Linked DNA regions of Homo sapiens: region 1 is linked to region 2. Evidence: fine-mapped expression QTL. A gene starts in region 2. The other region holds a variant in brackets. All regions are shown on one strand. Distances are from middle to middle.

What was found. PIP is the estimated chance that this variant, and not a neighbour inherited with it, causes the effect.
Region 1: its variant is fine-mapped to the expression of PPP3CA in whole blood (INTERVAL, PIP 0.93).

What each region holds. Positions count from the first base shown.
Region 1 is chr4:101,030,182-101,033,202 of GRCh38, reverse strand. It overlaps PPP3CA (protein phosphatase 3 catalytic subunit alpha), which reads left to right. Exons shown (of 14, transcript NM_000944.5): 12 at 839-936. Among named protein-coding and RNA genes, the nearest start is that of LINC01218, 150 kb to the right of the region's middle. RefSeq lists a silencer at 937-1,231 and an enhancer at 943-1,477. The variant A/G (reference allele first, on the strand shown) is at 1,610.
Region 2 is chr4:101,346,435-101,348,934 of GRCh38, reverse strand. PPP3CA (protein phosphatase 3 catalytic subunit alpha) reads left to right here and starts at 1,409. Exons shown (of 14, transcript NM_000944.5): 1 at 1,409-2,196. The coding sequence starts at 2,139. It overlaps PPP3CA-DT (PPP3CA divergent transcript), which reads right to left and starts at 1,158. Exons shown (of 2, transcript NR_033874.1): 1 at 926-1,158; 2 at 52-611. RefSeq lists silencers at 1,174-1,783, 2,254-2,500.

The DNA of each region.
Region 1 (3,021 bases), 320 kb after region 2:
AAGACTTTTTTCTGGTTATGTAGGATTGCAATATTGCTATGTGGAAAGAGTGAGTGGTTATTTAGTCATGGTTATTTAATTATGAGGATTTAACAATTCAAAATGATTAATAGTGTCAAGTAATTAATAAATATAATTAAAATAATGATGTACTTAAAACTGATTGATTGTAAAACAATTGTCATGCTGAGTAAGAAAATAATTTTATATTAGCAAATCAGTGGGGAAAGTGACTGAAAAAAAAAATCTGGGAAATTTTACCAGTAGGTTTATTGGCTGCTTGCCATTATTTTATGTGTTTTTCATGTAACATCTAAATTACTAAATGCCTTAATTTCTCAAAGTCCACTGAATGTAATTCCTGATTCCCTAATCCACAAATCAGATTTTTTTTCAATCTCCATATGCTCTGTTTTTTTATTCCGTCAAATCAAATCACTTCCCCTTATTTTTGCTGAGCCTTGGCTGAAAAACTTAACATCAGCATTCTCTATGGCTCACTTTTAACATACAGAATGCACAACAAACACTTTGTATTGAGATGCCTGATTACAAAATCAAAATGGTTTTCTTTATCTATCTAGCTTCGATACTCAAAAGAAACAGAACCTCCCTAATTGGATAATGTAAACTTTATGGTAGCAATCGTTTATGGAACATTACTGGTATATAAATAAATTAAAATAAAGTATGTTAAAAAAAATTTTAAAAAAAGATCCGGAGAGCCAAGATAGAGGGAAATGTGGGTGCTTATATGCATTTTTTTTCCTTTCAGTCATTTCTTTCTTTTTCACAAAAGAAATTAAAAGTTAATGTCGCCCCTCATTGTGCCTTCCAGAGAAGAGAGTGAGAGTGTGCTGACGCTGAAAGGCTTGACCCCAACTGGCATGCTCCCCAGCGGAGTACTTTCTGGAGGGAAGCAAACCCTGCAAAGCGGTAAGCAGGCTGATGGGTATGACTGTGTGCTGGGGCATCGCAGTCAGCTGTGTCATTAGAGCCCTGATTTATTCATTCATTTAAGCTCTGTCTTGGTCTTCGGTTCTTCTTCTCAGCTGGCAGAAGGGCTGAAACCCCAATCAGTTTGATCAGTCATGTCCAACATAATAGCTCCCTCATTCTCTGGAATGTGGTCTTTACTCCACCTTTCCCCCATTCCCTCATTCACATGTTAATCTACATATTCAGCCTAGCTACAGGACAACTCATTTAGGTTGCCTACATGCACAATAGGTTTGACTACTTTGAGCCACTCCGTTGTCAAAAACAACTTTTTAATCACATTTTTAATAAGTATTCTGGTTATGTTTCATTTATGAGATAACACATACACACATAACCACTAAAATATACCTGTATGTCTAGATTTTCAGGAGATGATTTCATTATCCTCTTGAATGGAAATTGGAAGCCATTTGTGTCTTTTCTCTGATTTATCAATTGAAAACAAGAGACTGAATAGAACCACATTTTATTTTTGAAAAAAGAGTAACATTTCCTTTATAATACAGATTTTGTGTTAAAATGTGTAGCTTTCTAGACCTTAGACCTGTGCCGTCCAGCAGAGCTCTTTGTGATGGTGGAAATTTCTGTATCTATACAGAAGCCGCAT[A/G]TGACTGTTGAGCATATAGGGAATATAACCAAGAAACTAAACGTTTTCTTTTATCTAATTTATATTAAATTTAATTAAAATAAGCCAGGAGGCTAGTGGCTACCATGTTAGCAGCACAGTCCTATATATTCTTTCACTTTTGTTACATTTGTTATCAATTTTAACTACTATTATTATTACATACAATACAATTTTAACAATAGGAGATTGCTATTAGATGAGGCTTTAACAGAAAAAAATTAAAATGAAAATATGCTATAACATTTTTCAAAACATTCTCGGCCTCTTGCTTATTTTCCTGTATCTTTCTTTGAATCTTTTTTGTATTTTCTTTTCTGTCCCTGCCCTTCAACCTAGAAGACTCACTATTCTCATTTATATTATTCAATAAACTTCTACATGAAGAGTAATGATCAACTTCATGAATATAGTATTGCTGAATGATCACATCATGGCTGCATCACATTAATTGTCTTTATTTTCAGATGAATATATTCCGAATCAGTGTCTTTTGAGTTTTTACAAAAAGACAAAAATTTTTAAATGAAGGTAGGAAGATACATAGTATTGAGAAGTAAACGTCCCCTTTAAATTTACAGCTAGGAATTATTTTAACAACTTTAAAAAAAAAACACACACAAAAGTTTTTCTACCAAATTAAATATCTTACTAAAACATTAGCATAAATGGATCATTTACATGTCCAAAATGTACCATCTACCTAACTGACTGAAATCTAGTTTCTGATAAGCACATTTTAAGGCACAGCAAGTGTATTATCAGAAACTGTGGGCTTTAGAACACATTTAATAGTGTTCATTTAACATTCGCTTTAGAACATTTAATAGTGGGCAGTACATAGTTCTAATATGTCAGTGCTGGTGTGATTCTGGATGTTTTGCTTTACTTTTAAACTTACGTTACTTAAGTTTTTCCAGTTCTTTGTTTCATTTCCAGATTTTCACTTGTGTTTTTACTTAGGTTATTTGGTTTTATTTTATTTTAAATCCATTGGTTTGTGTTTTTCTATGGTTCAACCTACACACAAACACACATACACATAAAAGACATATGGGTTGGAACCTTTCTATATGGGTTTGAAAACTTACTATATATTTTAAACCACATACATTGATACGACTCCAAAATGTATTGCCTGATGCCCTTCAATTTGTCTAAAAGGGTAGACTACTTACAACTTTGCTATGTACTCTCTCTCTCCATGGTGATAACCATTCTCCATTTTTATCATAAGGAATCTCGAATCCACCGTAAGTAAGTTATAGTGCACATTTTGCAGTTGCTGTAGTTTTAAAATCTTGAATTATAAGAAAAATGCAAATTAAAGTCAAGGGGTAGAATTTTAATATTAAACATTTTGGAGTTACAGAGAAGTTTTGCATTTTAAGATT
Region 2 (2,500 bases):
GAAATAGGAAAAACCTGATACTGAAGGACTTTGGAAATAAAACAGGAAACATGAAGGGTGAGAAATTTATTCAGATTTCTTCATAATTCCCCCCAAAAGCTCCAACCACGTTGCCAGTCCTTGGGTGCTGCAGTTGGTCGGGGAGAGGGGCTGTGTGGAGGTCACCTTCTGGTAGACGGAGACCCGCTTTTCAGACTCTGTGGCGCAGCAGGCGGGCCAGGAACATTTGGGCCACTATTGCTCTTAGCCCTGCCGCGCCTGACTTTCTCTCCTCTACTTTCCTTCCGACCGTAGGGACAAGTGTGGGGATCCGCTTTGGGCTCCAAGGCCCTGCCCGCACTGGCAGCACCAAGCGGGTGTAGAATGACTGGAAGGAGCAGGGAAGGAAGATGGGTGTCAACTGTCCCGGCCAGTGGCTGCGTGCATGTGTGTGTGAACAGGGAAAAGGCCACCCTCTCCCATGTTTCTCCCGTCTCCTCGGTTCTCCTCGGAGACCCGCAGGGCTGCCCGAGGTAGCTCCGAGTTGCCCTGGGTCGCTGGGGCTTGGTCCGCATCCTCCTCCGCTAGTCCGCTCCCGCGTTCCACAGCGCCCCGCCGCTCGGTGTGCACGCCTGGGTGGGACACAGTAACAGCCCCTAAGCCGCCAACGCAAAAGCAAAAACAACCGTACACCGCATCGCAGTCGTAGCTCTTCTCCGCAAGGTAAGTTGTTTATTCGTCGCCGTTTTGGCGATCCTCCCTGGACAGCTGCGGCAGCGACGGCAGCTGCGCCGCGGGCGCCGAGCTCCCAGCCTCTTCCTTCCTCCGCCCTCTCAGGGCTGCCTCTCACCCCCACCCTCTTCCCTCCTATCCCCGCCTTCTCTCTTCTTGCCCTCTTGTGGGCCACGCACACACCCGGAGACACCCTCTGCACTTGGCTACTCACACTGCGGCTTAACCCAGCCGACAAGGCACGCTTGCCAAAGAGGCGCGGGTGTGTGTGTGCGGGGTCCGCGTTCGGAGGCCAAAGGAGGGTGGCGTGGTAGAGCCCTTCTCCTCCTGGCCGCGACGCCTTGCCCACTCTCCTGCCCTAATCTCGGCCTGCCAGCAAAAGTGACACCTGAGCAGGGACTGGTCCGTAGAGGCGGCAGGCCCGCTGGTCCGGCAGCTGGAAGAAAACAGAGCAAGGGGCGGGGACAATGAGGAGGAGCGGGAGGCGGGACAAGCGGGGAGGCCGCCACCTGGCACTGAGTGATGCGCCCTCTAGCCAATGAACGCGAGGAACTCCGGCGTCGGGGCGGGAGGTCGGGGGCGGGCTCAGTGGGGAGGAGGAGGCTGCAGGCGCGCAAGAGGCGGGGGCCGGGAGGAGGAAGGGGAGGAGGCGGAGGCGGGCGCGGTGTTGGCGGCGGCGGCGGCGGCGGAGGGGGGTAGGTTGTGCCCGGGACTGTGTCTGCCGAGCTCGGCGGCTGTGCCTTGGTGAGTGGAGGAGCGGCGCGGGGAGGCAGAGGCGAGCGCGGGCGATCGCGGCGGCGGGACGTCTCCGGCGGCCGCGGCACCAGCGGCGGCGCTCTGTGTGGAGAAGCAGGGGCAGCGGCAGCAGCAACAGCGGCAGCGGCAGCAGCAGCGGCAGCAGCGGCGGCCGCCTCTCCGCCGCCGGGGACGCCAAGGTGCGGCTGGTGGCACTGACATCGGCGGCCCTGCCTCTCCTCCCTCGCCCCCGGCCTTCCCCATGTGATCGGTCTTAATCCTGGCCGTGTGTGCGCGCGTGGGGCTCCATTCCGCGGTGCTGGGTCTCCGTGCCGGGGTGGGTGCTCGTGTGTGCGCTTCTCCTCCCCATCCCCCTTCCCCCAAGAATAAAAGAAGAACCGGGAGGCGTGCTCAGAAAATAAATAAATAACCACCACACACGCGCAGCCCGGAGCGAGTCGGCGGGGCTGGCGGCAGCGGCGGAGGAGGAGTGAAGGCGGCGGCGGCGGAGGAGGGACGCGCGGAAAAGGCAGCAACTTTAAAGCCAGCTCAGAGCCTAGACCTCCAGCCGAGCGGTTTGCAGCGCGGCGGCGGCGGCGGCGGCGGCGGCGTTGAGTGTCTGGCCCGCCGGTCCGGTCGGGGTGTGCAGTCGGACGGACGAGCAGCGCGTCGCTGTCCTCCGGCAGCTGGAGATGTCCGAGCCCAAGGCAATTGATCCCAAGTTGTCGACGACCGACAGGGTGGTGAAAGGTAAGCGGAGCGCCGCGGTGGCCTGGGTGCACCGTGTGCCGCAGGCGCCAGGGCAGCTTGCCTCGCCTCGCCTTTCCTCCCCTCCCCCGCCCCAGGTTCTCCTCTGTCCGCTCCAGCCGCGGACCTTCTAGGATATTGTGCAACCCGCGAACCCCGCGAACCCCCCGCCCCCGCGGCGCCCTTCCCCCACGCGTCCCACCCAGCCTCACTTGGGGCATTTTTATTGACGGGGGCGTCAGTTGGCAAATGGCTGAGCCGCGGGGAGGTGGCGGCGGGGGTGGCGGTGGTGGGAGGGGGCGCCCGG